4 linked regions of the Homo sapiens genome follow. The protein of the gene in region 2 purifies or fractionates together with the protein of the main gene of each other region. This does not show direct contact. Each region holds a gene or a part of one and is shown on either strand. Other genes may lie near its edges.

What was found. Proteins that work in one complex are often made in the same cells at the same time.
Region 1: the proteins of MCAT (region 2) and TAOK1 purify together in Homo sapiens (affinity purification with mass spectrometry; one large-scale study listed by BioGRID and IntAct). This does not show direct contact.
Region 3: the proteins of MCAT (region 2) and SHMT1 fractionate together in Homo sapiens (co-fractionation; one large-scale study listed by BioGRID). This does not show direct contact.
Region 4: the proteins of MCAT (region 2) and RCC1L purify together in Homo sapiens (affinity purification with mass spectrometry; one large-scale study listed by BioGRID and IntAct). This does not show direct contact.

What each region holds. Positions count from the first base shown.
Region 1 is NC_000017.11:29,389,059-29,393,162, reverse strand, and holds the start of TAOK1 (serine/threonine-protein kinase TAO1), read right to left. Parts: upstream 2,801-4,104; 5' UTR 2,139-2,800; intron 1-2,138. UniProt on the Homo sapiens protein: Serine/threonine-protein kinase involved in various processes such as p38/MAPK14 stress-activated MAPK cascade, DNA damage response and regulation of cytoskeleton stability. Phosphorylates MAP2K3, MAP2K6 and MARK2.
Region 2 is NC_000022.11:43,136,899-43,140,398, forward strand, and holds part of MCAT (malonyl-CoA-acyl carrier protein transacylase, mitochondrial isoform a precursor), read right to left. Parts: intron 401-3,500; coding exon 183-400; intron 1-182. UniProt on the Homo sapiens protein: Catalyzes the transfer of a malonyl moiety from malonyl-CoA to the free thiol group of the phosphopantetheine arm of the mitochondrial ACP protein (NDUFAB1). This suggests the existence of the biosynthesis of fatty acids in mitochondria.
Region 3 is NC_000017.11:18,357,051-18,360,550, reverse strand, and holds part of SHMT1 (serine hydroxymethyltransferase, cytosolic), read left to right. Parts: exon of another isoform or gene 1-137; intron 138-3,500. UniProt on the Homo sapiens protein: Interconversion of serine and glycine.
Region 4 is NC_000007.14:75,042,803-75,046,302, forward strand, and holds part of RCC1L (RCC1-like G exchanging factor-like protein), read right to left. Parts: intron 308-3,500; coding exon 230-307; 3' UTR 1-229. UniProt on the Homo sapiens protein: Guanine nucleotide exchange factor (GEF) for mitochondrial dynamin-related GTPase OPA1. Activates OPA1, by exchanging bound GDP for free GTP, and drives OPA1 and MFN1-dependent mitochondrial fusion. Plays an essential role in mitochondrial ribosome biogenesis.

The sequences.
Region 1 (4,104 bases), on a different chromosome or scaffold from region 2:
ATCAGACTTCCTGGCATAATTTGCCATAATGGAGAAAACTCTACATATCAACAACATGCAGCTTTGTCCCATGAAATAAATACTCAAATGAATAGTGTTATTTCAATGAATTGAGATGACCATTAAAAGGGAATAAAGAAAAGAGAATTCCATCTTCTGAGAAAAAAAAATAAAACTTATTTAACATACCATGTCTCCTACATCAAAATCATGATATAAAATGACAGAAACTAAGTTAGTGCCTAGCGCTACTACTAACACCTTTAAATCCCTATCTTAAAACAGGTTTCAAAATGCAACAAACACACCAAAAAAGCTCTATTGGACAACATTTAATGACAACATAAAATGTAGATGGCATTTGAAGTATTTAAAAATAAGTCACTAAGTAGAGCTGAAAACACTAAATACACCAAAGACAACTCATTATCTGTACACATTTTAGTCTTCTTCTTCACTTTGGGAAAAAATTAATTCTATTAATAGTCATATGTGGAATATTTTGAAATCACATCACCAGTATTTACTAAACACTTGAAAAAAATGTATCATCAGTACATGGAGACTTGAAAACTACTCTTTGGTCACAAAAAGCACTTGGCAGCACATTTCCAGAATGTTTAAATTTTTATTTCTACTCAACTAAGAACAAAACCAACAAGTACTACTGTAAACCAGATAAGATGATCTGCTTTCAGACAAACATGACAGGTAGCAAAAGAAGTGAAAAATGACTGACTACAGAAAATAGATCATAGAATAATTAGGCAGATTAATAAGAACAAAGAAACAGCTGCAGAAAGGTTTGTAACCTTACCATTTTAAAAAAAATCCAATTTCAATATTATACACAACAGTATCAACCCTAAAAATTCACAGCTTAGGGAGAAATGCCCTGAATCAGACAGGCTGTCTGTATGTAATAATTGTTAATAATTTTTTTTTTTGAAACGGAGTCTCGCTCTGTCGCCCAGGTTGGAGTGCAGTGGCACCATCTCGCCTCACTGCAACCTCCGCCTCCCGGGTTCAAGCGATTCTCCTCCCTCAGCCTCCCGAGTAGCTGGGACTACAGGCGCGTGCCACCATGCCCAGCTAATTTTTTGTATTTTTAGCAGAGACGGGGTTTCACCGTGTTAGCCAGGATGGTCTCGATCTCCTGACTTCGTGATCCGCCCGCCTTGGCCTCCCAAAGTGCTGGGATTACAGGCGTGAGCCACCGCGCCAGGCCAATAATTCTTCATGAACTACAAAAGTCATAGAAAAAGAAAAGGGAAATGAGGATGAGGAGGTACAAAATTATTTTATTTGAATTCTAACTAAAATCCAACCTGCTCACAAAAAATGTCAATCCAGACATCTCTCAAAAAGAGAGACATCAAAACTGTTCTAACAGGAGAGGTGTCCCTCTCGAGAGGCCATATCCCCCAACAATAACACCAGAACAGATACACTTCCCATGGACAGATCTCAGGGGAAGAGTATTAAAACGATACTGTCGTCGATTTAAAACCAAAGGAAAAAGAGTAACCTTTTCAAGGGAAGCGCCATTACTTCCCTCTCCTGCTCCCCCTCCCTTCTGTGTATACATGGGTCTGTGTATGAAGAAACTGCCTTGGACTTCTGCAGCATTGCAGTAGACTAGAGGATGGGGAAGGGGGAAGGGTACGGGGAGAGAAACGCTTCCATCGCCCCTACAGAAGAGGGGTATAGATTTCCTGTGCTAGGGGGTGGAATCCACCCAGCAAGCCACCCAGAGCAGTCTCCCTTCCCAAGAATACACAGACACTACAAAGGAGAAGAGGAGCAAAGGCACCAGAGGGGAAGGGGACCTCGCGCCTTTAAACCGGGGTGCACATCAACCCAGTCTCCCTGTGAGGGCCACACCTTCCTCGAAACATCCCCCTTCCACCACCCCTTCCGGTGACCCTCAGGAAAAAGGAATGGAATTGCTCTCGCCCCTTAAAACCGGAGGGCGCCCAGCTCACCAGCTTCTTCACCCCACCCACAGAATCACAGACCCTCCTTTTCTCCCTCCCCCACCCCACTCCCACATCCCTTCTTCCACACACAGGCCCGAGTGGGCCGAATTTCCCCGCCCCCCTCTATATCCCCCTTTCCCAAAGCAGAGGTGCCCTTACCCTTTCGCCGACAGGTCTGGGGCGGAGCAGGCAGGCGCAGCCCCCTGCAGCGCTCCGGTAGCCGCTACCCTGGAGGGTGAGGAGTGAGGAGGAGGAGGGGGCCCGGCGACAGATCGCCGCCCCCCACCCCCGAGCCCCAGCAAGCCGCCCAGCCCAAGCTCTGCAACAAGGGGCGGCGGCGGCGGGGGGTGGGGGGGGGGGCGAGGGGACGACCGGGGTCGAGGAGGCGCCCTCAGCGCTTGGGCTCAGTTAAGATGGCGCGGGGAAGTGCCGGGAGCCGTCTCCGTCGCCGCCTCGGGGGAACCGGCCCGGGCCTCGGCCGCCTCTAGTCCTCACACAGCCGAGGCCCTCTCGGTCCCCCGCCGCGGCCCCTCGGCGGGCGGGCCCACGCGCAGCCCTCCGCCACCAACACCACCCCTGGTAAGGAGGCGCTCACAAAGGGAAGAGAGGCCGCGGGCCGGCCGGCGGACGGCGGGGCGGGGTCCCCCGGGGCCGGGAGGCCTCAGATGTTCGCGAGTGCCTAGTGCTTTCGGCCCGCGAAGGGCGCAGGGCGAGCGGGACCCCTCCTCTCTCCTCAGGCAGGCGGCGGCACCGACTCAGTCTCTTTGCCACCCTCCCTCTCTCTCCCCGAGCCCTGAAGCCACAGAGCCCGGCCGCTGCCCAGCTTCCCCCCCTTTACCCGACACCACTCCCCTCCTCCAGACCGTCATCCCCCGTCTCCGATCTCGCGAGATTTTCCGCCTGACAGGCCGGACCCTGCGCGAGACACGACTACATGCGCGCGCGCGCGCCCTCACAGGAGCGCGCAAGGCTTGCTACGGGCAGAGTTGTCCCGGTGGCCCGGAGTTCCAGCCTCTGTCCAGCATGGCCTCACTGAGTTCGCGGAGCTTCTAATGCCACGCGGGCGTCAGGTGCATTCATTTCACCCCGGAGATCTGAAGAAGAAGAGTTTATCTGCATTCCCCTTCCTTCCTGCTTCCCACCTCCAAAGCCCGCCACTGATCCTGCGAATAAGTTTGCCCTGAAGTGTGGAATATCCCATTCCTGCACAACTCGGTTCTACACCCCCTCCCCCGTGGGATTCAGAGGTACACTGGGCAGCGCAATCAGTATGCAGTTGAGTTTTTGAGATTCTAATAGTTGATACTAATTCTTGGAACGACAGTAAGACTTGGAAATACAGATCTAAGCCACCCTATATATTGGTGATGTAGAAAAGAGATAACTTCTTGAAAAGTGTCTGTGGGTTTAGTAGGTTGAGTAATGAGAAGTTTTGGAACAAGAGCAGCAAACAAACTAAAGACTCCTATGCAAAGAAGAAGTAGAGTTTTTATTCTTTTATCTCAAAACTTTTTTTTTTTTTTTTAGGGAAAACTCCCTCAGTACTTATTCAAGAACCTAAAAGTGTAAGGCCGGGCGCGGTGGCTCACGCCTGTAATCCCAGCACTTTGGGAGGCCGAGGCGGGCGGATCACGAGGTCAGGAGATCGAGAGCATCCTGGCTAACACGGTGAAACCCCGTCTCTATTAAAAGATAGAAAAAAATTAGCCGGGCGTGGTGGTGGGCGCCTGTAGTCCCAGCTAGCTACTCGGGAGGCTGAGGCAGGAGAATGGCGTGAACCCGGGAGGCGGAGGTTGCAGTGAGCCGAGATTGCGCCACTGCACTCCAGCCTGGGCGACAGAATGAGACTCGTCTCAAAAAAAAAAAAAAAAAAGAGAGAACCTAAAAGTGTACACAAAGTGTAGTCATAAAAAATCTTGGTTCTTTAACCAACAAAACGACTGAAATAAATAAACCTGTTATATGAGTTTCATGAATAAAAATTAACTCTGGGCCGGGCCCGGTGGCTCACGCCTGTAATTATAGCACTTTGGGAGGCTGAGACGGGCGGATCACCTGAGGTCAGGAGTTCGAGACCAGGCTGGCCATAGTAGATCTGTGCTCCAAGGAAGGAGCATGTTGATCA
Region 2 (3,500 bases):
CAGCATTCTTGCTCCTGCCTGCTTTGCAGCACTCGGTCTACCTCACTGCCCTGGCCCCAAAATACTTCCTAAAGACCGGGCTGGACCCAGCACCCGCCAGACTGCTAGGCCTCACGGGTGTGGAGCAGTTCCAACCCTCCGTACTGGACTGGCCTATGAAGGCAGTTCCCATCAACACCCACCTCTTGGTGTCCTGAAATCACCCTGCAATCTGGAAAGAGGTAGTTGGACACTTCACATACGGGGTTCTCTATGCCTAAAGACTTGCAGTGTTCCCGGGCTTCCAAACAGGCGAAGTTGAACTTGGACTGAGGCTGGCCGAGGACAGACAGCATCCCACTGGGGACAGCTTCTGAAGCTTCCTGCATGGCCTCAGCTCGGATTTTCACTGCATACAAACCTGGCCAGAGAGAAGCGCATTTGGAAAAATGAGGGCACAGAATGAAGGAGAAAAGGCCAGGCCTGAGAAACAAAGCCCAAGCTCCACTCTGCACTAGAGACAGGGGCACTGGTGTCTGCCACCAGCCAGCAGGGCCACAGTTCCACACACCTCCATCGACTGCACAAGCGCTCACCACCAAAAGTATGCTGCTGTGCTTGGCACTATACAAACTAACCCAAGGAGCTTCCTGCTATAAAGCTGGTTTGGAGTAGGACAGTGGTGCTCAACAGGCCGGGGGCAGTGTCCGGAGACGTTTTCCGGTTGTTCTGACTAGGGGAGAGTGCCACTGACGTCTAGTGGGTAGAGTCCAGGGATGCTGCTCAACATGCTGCACTGCACAGGTCAGCCCCCCTTGCCCCCAACAAAACAAATGACCTGGCCCAATAGCGCCACTGTTTTTTTTTTTTTTTAAATAGTGCCACTATTGAGAAACCCTGGTAAAAGGTAAAGAGGAACAGGGTGGAAGCCACATTGCCTTAGCCAAGTCACAACCTCCTTGAGGTTCAAATTTTTAGTTAGTAAAATGAGGATAATAATATCTAATCTGCCTGGGCTGTTGTGAAAGCTGGGAATTATTATTAGTTAGTTTATTAAGAGAGATCAGGCCGGGCATGGTGGCTTATGCCTGTAATCCCAGCACTTTGGGAGGCTGAGGCAGGACGGCTTGAGCCCAAGGAGCTCGACACCAGCCTGAGCAACATAGGGAGACCCTGTCCCTGCAAAAAATAAAATACAAATTAGCCAGGCATGGTGGTGCCTGCCTGTAGTCCCAGATGCTTGGGAGGCTGACACGGAAGGATCACTTGTGACCAGCAGGTTGAGGCTGCAGCTGTAGTAAGCTATGATTGCTCCACTGCACACCAGCCTGGTGACAGAGCAAGACCCTGTCTCAAAACAAGAACAACAAAAAAGAACCATCAGAGACATGGGCTACTGTACTACATGAATTTCAGTGACATAATTGTCATAAGTCAAGTGTTACTGTCCCCACTTAGAGCTGGAGAACCTGACACAGCCAATGCAGATGAACGAAAACCTATGACTCCTGATTCAGTGTGGCTCAAGAGCATGGAGAGAGGGCAGGCAGTGCCAATGATAATAAGAGTGGCCTGAGGGCTGGTCGCTGTGGCTCGCACCTGTAGTTCCGGCACTTTGGGAGGCCAAGGCAGGCAGATCACTTGAGCTCAGGAGTTCGAGACCAGACTAGACAACATGGTAAAACCCTGTCACTACCAAAAATACAAAAATTAGCCGGGCGTGGCAGTGTGCGCCTGTGGTCCCAGCTACTTGGGAGGCTGAGGTGGGAGGATTGCTGGAGCCCAGGAAGTTGAGGCTACAGTGAGCTGTGTTCATGCCACTGTATTCCAGCCTGGGTGACAGAGCGAGACCCTGTCTCAAAAATCCCTACAAAGCCACACATAAGAATGGCCTGAAACTACCAGACCCCTGACACCCTGGTCCTGCTTCCTGGGCAGAGAGAAGAGATGACCAGACTGAGAAGAGATTAAGGGACCTGCACAGTGTTTCACAGGTCAACAGAGAGGTCTAAGGAGCAAATCCTGACATATCTTCATTCACTTAGCACTTCTATGTACTGGACTTTTAGCTCCCTTACACAAGAACAGGAGGACAAATACATAAACAGCCTGTGACATCAGGTACTTAGGAGGCTAAGGCAGGAGGACTGCTTGAGATCAGGAGTTAGAGGCTGCAGTGAGCTATGGTTGCATCACTGCACTCAAGGCTGGAAGACAGAGGAAAACTCTGTCTCTTAAAAAACAAATGAACAAGAGCCTGTGACAAGAAGTAGAAGAAAACATACAAGAAAAGGGAGGAGAGCACGCAGACATCCTCCCACAGAGACATTCAAAACTATGTAAAATGTCAAGGGAAAAAAGTAGGCCAGGCACAGTGGCTAATGCCTGTAAGTAATCCCAGCACTGTAGGAGGCTGAAGCTGGAGGATCACTTGAGTCAGGAGTTCCAGACCAGCCCTGGCAACATAGCGAGACCCCATCTCTACAAAAACTTCTAAAATTAGCTGGGCATGATGGTGTGAGCCTGTAGTCCCAGTTAGTCTGGAGACTGAAGCGGGAGGATCACTTGAGGCCAAGAGGCTGAGGCTGCAGTGAGCTACGACTGCACCACTGCACTGCAGCTGGGGTGACAGAGCAAGATACTGCCTCAAAAAAGAAAAAGAAAAAGAAAACACAAAAGTGTAACTATGCTATAATTCTGCACTTTTTTTTTTTTTTTTGACACAGAGTCTCATTCTCTAACCCAAGCTGGAGTGCAGTGGCACAATCTCGGCTCACTGCAACCTCTGCCTCCTGGTTCAAGTGATTCTTGTGCCTCAGCCTCCCAAGTAGCTAAGATTACAGGTGCACGCCACCACACCCAGATAATTTTTGAATTTTTAGTAGAGATGGGGTTTTACCACGTTGGTCAGGCTGGTCTCAAACTCCTGCCTTAGGTGATCCACCCACCTTGGCCTCCCAAAGTGCTGGGCTGGGATTACAGGCGTGAGCCACCACACCAAGCCTAATTCTGCACATTATGTACACATAAAATGATACATGTAATAAAATTGTTTCATAAAATGTGAAATTATGAAACTTTCCTTAATAATGTTATAACGCTTAAAAAAAAAGCACTGCAGTGAAATTCACATAAAATATAATTAACCACTTTAATGTGTATAATTCAGTGGTATTTGGGGTATTCATAATGTTGTACAACCACCAACTCTCTCTAGTTTCAAACACTCCATGTCCACTATGTAGGCACTCTCCATTTCTCCCTCTCCAGTCCCAATAACCTCTCGTGTTTCTATACTAGATTCTTTTTTGTTTGTTTTGGACAGGGTCTTGCTCTGTCACCCATGCCGCAGTGCAGTGGCACAATCGTGGCTCACTGCAGCCTCAGACTCAGGGGCTCAAGTGATCTTCCCTCAGCCTCCTGAGTAGCTGGAATTACAGATGCATGCCACTAAGTGCAGCTAATTTTGTGTATGTGTGTGTGTGTGACAGGGTGTCACTCTGTCACCCAGGCTGGAATGC
Region 3 (3,500 bases), on a different chromosome or scaffold from region 2:
TCTTGTTCTCTTGGCCAGGCTGGAGTGCTGTGGGAAAATCTGGGCTCACTGCAGCCTCAACCTCCGGGACTCAAGTGATCATCCTGCCTCAGCCACCCAGAGTAGCTGAGAATACAGGCGTGCGCCACCAGGCTCGGGTAATTTTTTGTATTTTTTTTTAGAGACAGGGTTTTGCCATGTTGCCTAGGCTGGTCTTGAACGCCTGGGCTCAAGTGATCTTCTCGTCTCAGCCTCTCAGAGTTCTGGGATTACAAGTGTAAGCAACCATGCCTGGCCTTGTGTATTTCTTTTTGGTTTTTTTTGTGATGGAGTCTTGCTCTGTCACCCAGGCTGGAGTGCAATGGTATGATCTCGGCTCACTGCAACCTCCACCTCCTGGGTTCAAGCGATTTTCCTACCTCAGCCTCCCGCATAGCTGGTATTACAGGGGCCCACCACTATGCCCATCTAATTTTTGTATTTTTTAGTAGAGACGGGGTTTCGCTGTGTTGGCCAGGCTGGTCTCGAACTCCTGACCTCAGGTGATCCGCCCGCCTTGGCCTCCCAAAGTGCTGGGGTTACAGGTGTGAGCCACTGTGCCTGGCCAAATAATTTTTTTTTTTTTTTAAGATAGAGTCTTGCTTTGTTGCCAGGCTGCGGTGCAGTGGTGTGATCTCTGCTCACTACAGTCTCCGCCTCCTGGGTTCAAGCCATTCTTCTGCCTCAGCCTCCTGAGTAGCTGGAATTACAGGCGGGCGCCACCACACCCAGCTAATTTTAGTATTTTTAGTGGAGATGGGGTTTCACCATGTTGGCCAGGACAGTCTTGATTTCCTGACCTTGTGGTCTGCCCGCCTTGGCCTCCCAAAGTGCTGGGATTACAGGCGTGAACCACTGCACCTGGCCTTTTTTTTTTTATTGAGACACAGTCTCACTCTGTCACCCAGACTGGAGTGCAGTGGCACAATCTCGGCTCACTGCAGCCTCCACCTCTGAGGCTCAAGTAAGTCTCATGCCTCAGGTGTGTGCCACCACACCCAATTAATTTTTTATATTTTTGCTATAGACAGGGTTTCACCATGTTAGCCAGGCTGGTCTCAAACTCCTGGCCTCAAGTTGATCTGCCCACCTCAGCCTTCCAAAGTGCTGGGATTACAGATGTGAGCCACCTTGCCCAGCCTAATTTCTAAATTTTTGTAGAGACGTGGTTTCACTGTGTTGCCTAGGCTGTGGTTGAACTCCTAGGCTCAAAGGATCCTCCTGCCTTGACTCCCCTAAGTGCTGGGATTACAGGCATAAGCCACCATACCAGGCCCTTTTTTTTTTTTCCCCTGGAGACAGAGTCTTGCTTTGTCACCCAGGCTAGAGTGCAGTGGTGTGATCTCGGCTCACTACAACTTCCGCCTCCCGGGTTCAAGCGATTCTCCTGCCTCAGCCTCCCAAGTAGCTGGGGTTACAGGTGCCTGCCACCACACCTGGGTAATTTTTGTATTTTTAGTCATGTTGGCCAGGCTGGTCTCGAACTTATGACCTCATGATCCGCACGCCTTGGCCTCCCAAAGTGCTGGGATTACAGGCATGAGCCACTGGGCCCAGCCCAACCTGTAATTCTTTAGGAAGATTTATATTCAAACAAGTCCTTTTTTTATTTAAAAGAAAAAAACACACACACACAGGGTCTTACTCTGTCACCCAGGCTGGAATGCACTGCCACAATCACGGCTCATTGCAACCTCTAGCTTCCAGGCTCAGGTGATCCTCCCACCTCAGCCTCCTGAATAGCTGGGACTACAGATGCATGCCACCACGACCAGCTAATAATTTGTATTTTTTGTAGAAATGGGGCTTTGCCATGTTGCCCAGGCCAGTCTTGAACTCCTGGGCTCAAGTGATCCTCCTGCCTCAGCCTCCCAAAGTGCTGGAATTACAGGCATGAACCACCACACCCAGCCCAAGTACATATTTTAACTAACAGCTTCACAGGAACTCTGTGGATTACTTAGAGCATGTGCTTTGGGGTTTCGAGTCCTGCCTCTGTGGCTAACTTTCTGTGCAGCCCTGGGCTAAGATATTTTACTTTTCTTTGAGACAGAGTCTCGCTCTGTTGCCAGCCTGGAGTGCAGTGGTGATCTTGGCTCACTGCAACCTCTGACTCCCAGGTTCAAGTGATTCTCCTGCCTCAGCCTCCCGAGTAGCTGGGATTACAGGCGTGAGCCACTACGCCCGGCTAATTTTTGTATTTTTAGTAGAGATGGGGTTTCACCGTGTAGGCCAGGATGGTCTCGATCTCCTGACCTCCTGATCCGCCCACCTCGGCCTCCCAAAGTACTGGGATTACAGGCATGAGCCACTGCGCCCAGCCACAATATTTCACTTTTCTAACGTCGTTTTTCTTTCTTTAGTTCTTTTTTTTTTTTTTTTAAGAGTCCTAGCCCAGGCTGGGCGCGGTGGCTCACACCTGTAATCCCAGCACTTTGGGAGGCCGAGACCATCCTGGCTAACCGGTGAAACCCCATCTCTACTGAAAAAATAAAAAAAAAATTAGCCAGGCATGGTGGTGGGTGCCTGTGTTCCTGGCTACTTGGGAGGCTGAGGCAGGAGAATGGCATGAACCCGGGAGGTGGAGCTTGCAGTGAGCCGAGATCGCGCCACTGTACTCCAGCCTGGGCGACAGAGTGAGACTCTGTCTCAAAAAAAAAAAAAAAAAGAGTCCTAGCTCAGTAGGTAGGACTATAGGCCCATCCCACCATGCCCAGCTAACTTTTTTTTTTGTAGCAATGCCCAGGCTGGTCTTGAACTCCTGGCCTCCCAAAGTGCTGGGGTTACAGGTGTGAGTTGCCATGCCTGGCCCTGAGCCTCAATTTCATTACTTGAAGTATGAAATAAATTAACACATTAAAGTGTTGCTAGGATTAAAATGAGGTCCTTATGTATTCAAAAATCGTACAGAGATTTTTGAGGCCCTTCTTATAGCAAAACTCCCATTTACATTTTTCTGGAGCCTGGAGAAATGTGTCCAGACTGAGTGAATAGGTGCTATTTGCTGTACTTACATTATCATTTATAAAATACTACTGGTGGTCATCCTGGAAAGATGATCCCAACTGCCTATATCCTGTTCATCATTAACTTGTGTGTCCCAAAAAATCTTTTGAAAAGTTGCTAAATAGTGAATATTTACTATTTTATGAGGGCCTGCCAGTTCCCTGCCAGTGGAATTGTTTCAAGTCAATGATTCATCTGTTCAGTCATTTGGAAAATACTCTTTTTTTTTTTTTTTTTTTTTTTTTTTGAGGTGGAGTCTTGCTCTATGGCCAGGCTGGAGTGCAGTGGTGTGATCTCGGCTCACTGCAAGCTCTGCCTCCCAGATTCAAGAGATTCTCCTGCCTCAGCCTCCCAAGTAGCTGGGACTACAGGCATGTGCCACAACGTCCAGCTCATTTTTTGTATTTTTAGTAGAGATGGGGTTTCACCAGGTTGGCCAGGATGGTCTCCAACTCCAGATCTTGTGATCTGCCCAC
Region 4 (3,500 bases), on a different chromosome or scaffold from region 2:
GGCTGCCATCCAAGCTGAGTTCCGCAGGCCTCACCTGCAGCTGGAGAGGGACCTTGCCCTGATCCTCCTGGTAGGTACCCGCTAAGGGATTCAGGACAGAGCGTCACACTGCACGCAGGGTCCTCCGCCACCACCATCCAAGAACCCCGGGGGGCTGGCCACGCGCTGGCCTCTGCCAAGGAGTGCCAGTGGTTCCCGGGACGGGGCCGCCCAAGCAGGTGAGGGAGGTTTAGATGAATGACTTGGCCAGGGTCACCATGTGGTCCACGCCACATGCCACGTCCACAGGCTCCCCAGGCATCGTCACCTGAAAAATAAGATCCAGCATACCATGGGTGGGGGTGGCGCACCCGGAGGAGACAGGCGCTGGTGTTGGCCGACCCGGCCCTGCCTCTCAGTAGGAGACTCAGTAGGAGACAGCTTGTCTCAGCAGGAGACAGCTTGTCTCAGTAGGAGACAGCTTCTCTGAGCCTCGGCTCCCTACCCTCTGGGAATGGGGGCACTTAGGCCTCCCCAGCAGGTCCATCAGGACAACTGCGTGTGGTCATGAGGACAAGGCCATCCCAACTCCCTCCAGTCAATGGCAGCCATCACCATTCACATCAGCCTGAGAGGGCATGTCGGGCAGGAACATGGGCCTGTGTGCATCCCTGGAACCTGCACGCCCTACAGGGGCTGCTCCCCTCTGACCCTAACCCCACTAGGCTCCATGCCCCCAGGCCAGGTGTTCAGAGATCTCTCCTGGGAGCCACTGCTATGGCTCACTAAGAAGCTCCAGGGGCTGGGCGCTGTAGCTCACGCCCATAATCTCAGCACTTTGGGAGGCCAAGGCAGGCGGATCACGTGAGGTCAGAAGTTTGAGACCAGCCAGGCGTGGTGGCAGGCGCCTGTAATCCCAGCTACTCGGGAGGCTGAGGTGGGAGAATTGCTTGAACCCAGGAGGTAGAGGCTGCAGTGAGCCAAGATTGCACCACTACACTCCAGCCTGGGTGACAGAGCGAGACTCTGTCTCAAAAACAAGCTCCAGAAACCCTGTCTCTTGCCTTGCAGGTCCAGTCTGGGAATCAGGCCCCACTGGCCCAACATCTCCACTCATCTTACCCGTCACCCCCAGCTCCAGTCACAGGCAGGCTGCGTCCCAAGTCACGACCACCAAGCAGGGGCAGTGGCTGTGTCTCAAAGACCCTTGCCAGGAGCCCTGATCACACTGCCTGTCTGGGCTGACAACATGGCATCAGAGGACAGCCCAAGCTTCAAGGGAGCAAGAAGATGGCCTCACTGAGACATGGAGGCTCTAGCCTGTTGGAAGGGCGCCCACTGTTCTATAGCCTCGCCATGGAAACGGACACCCTCAACAACTCCAGGTGTGCCCAGGGCCATAGCCAATCCAGCTATCCAGGAAAGGGGCACTCTGCTTTCTCTTTCTTGTTTATTATGACTAGGCAGTGCATTCACATAGCTGCAAGATAAAAGGACATTCAGTGAAAAAGAAGAAAAAGCTATTAAATGATTTTTATGCCGGGCGCAGTGGCTCACACCTGTAATCCCAGCACTTTGGGAGGCTGAGGTGGACTCCACTTGAGGTCAGGAGTTCAAGACCAGCCTGGCCAACATGGTGAAACCCTGTCTCTACTAAAAATACAAAAATTATCTGGGTGTGGTGGCGCACGCCTATAACCCCAGCTACTCGGGAGGCTGAGGCAGGAGAATCGCTTGAACCTGGGAGGTGGAGGTTGCAGTGAGCTGAGATCGCACCACTGCACTCCAGCCTGGGCGACAGAGCAAGACTCTGTCTCGAAAAAAAAAAAAAAAAAAAAAAAAGTCTTTCATTACCACACCTATCACCAGCTGCCCCAGTCCCCATCTGCCTCTGAACTGAAAACTACTTTTAACTGATTTCTTATTAACTTTCCAGAGGTTTGTTTTGTTTTTGTTTTAAGAGACAGGGTCTAGGCCAGGCGCAGTGGCTCACGCCTGTAATCCCAGCACTTTGGGAGGCCGCGGTGGGCAGGAGTTTGAGACCAGCCTGGCCAACATGGTGAAACCCCGTCTCTACTAAAAATGCAAAAATTAGCTGGGCATGGTGGCAGGCGCCTGTAATCCCAGCTACTCAGGAGGCTAAAGTAGGAGAATTGCTTGAACTCAGGAGACAGAGGTTGCAGTGAGCCGAGATCACGCCATTGCACTCCAGCCTGAGCAACAGAGCAAGACTCTGGCTCAGAAACAAAAAAGAGGCAGAGTCTCACTTTGTTGCCCAGGCTGGAGTCTAGTGGTGCAATCACTGCAGGCTTAACCTCCTGGGCTCAAGTGATTTTCCCGCCTTAGCCTCCCAAGTAGCTGGGACTACAGGCACGTGCCACCATGCCTGGCTAATTTTGTTTGTTTGTTTGTAGAGACAGAGGTCTCACTATGTTGCCGAGGCTGGATTATAGAGACACAATCATAGCTCGCACTACAATGTCGAACTCCTGGGCTCAAGCTATCCTCCCACCTCACCCTCCCAAGTAGCTAGGACTACTGGCATGCACCACTATGCTCAGCTTATTTTTGTATTTTTTGTAGAGACAGGGTCTTGCCATGTTGCCCAGGCTGGTCTCGAACTCCTGGGCTCAAGTGATTCTCCTGCTTCAGCCTCCCGAAGTGCTGGGATTCCAGGTGTGATCCCCAGGCCTGGCCTTCCAGAGGTTCTTTATGCAAAGAAGCAGATATGCATCTCTCTTTTTTTTTTTTTTGAGACGGAGTCTCGCTCTGTCACCAGGCTAGAGTGCAGTGGCGCAATCTCAGTTCACTGCAACCTCCGACTCCCTGGTTCAAGCGATTCTCCTGCCTCAGCCTCCCAAGTAGCTGGGATTACAGGCATGCAGTACCATGCCCAGCTAATTTTTGTATTTTTCGTAGAGATGGGGTTTCACCATGTTGGCTAGGATGGTCTTGATCTTCTGACCTCGTGAGCCACCTGCCTTGGCCTCCCAAAGCGCTGGGATTACAGGCGTGAGCCGCTGCACCTGGCCTTCTCTTCCTTTCTTAAGTGCCAACTGCAAAGAAAGTGACCCTGCCTGGCTTGGCCGGAAGACCCCTGCCAGGATGCTGGCACTTGATCTACTGACCAGATCCGAATTCGACCACCCTCCCCTGGTGGCAGCATGCAGCCAGGTGGTGTGACAGCTGGAAAGGGGATCTGTCACAGTCTGTGGAGTTTACCGAGCTTAAGAGGGAAACCGCCTAATCCAGATGGCCTGGCCCTAAAAGCCGAGAGGCGGCAGGCGCCGACCCCGGAGCTTTGCACCTACGCCAGGAGACAAGACCATTAGGGACTCCTGGCCACAGCAGATGGATGCTAGAAACCAAGTCATGCTGTCATCCCCCAGCCCTGTCCCTAAACAAATGAATGTCTTTAGCAGAACCTATTACAGGAATCACTAAACAAACAAGAACGGGGCCCAGTGAATCGCAAAGGCACGTCGATGCAGAAAGCCTGAGAGGCTGGCCGGAGAAGAAAA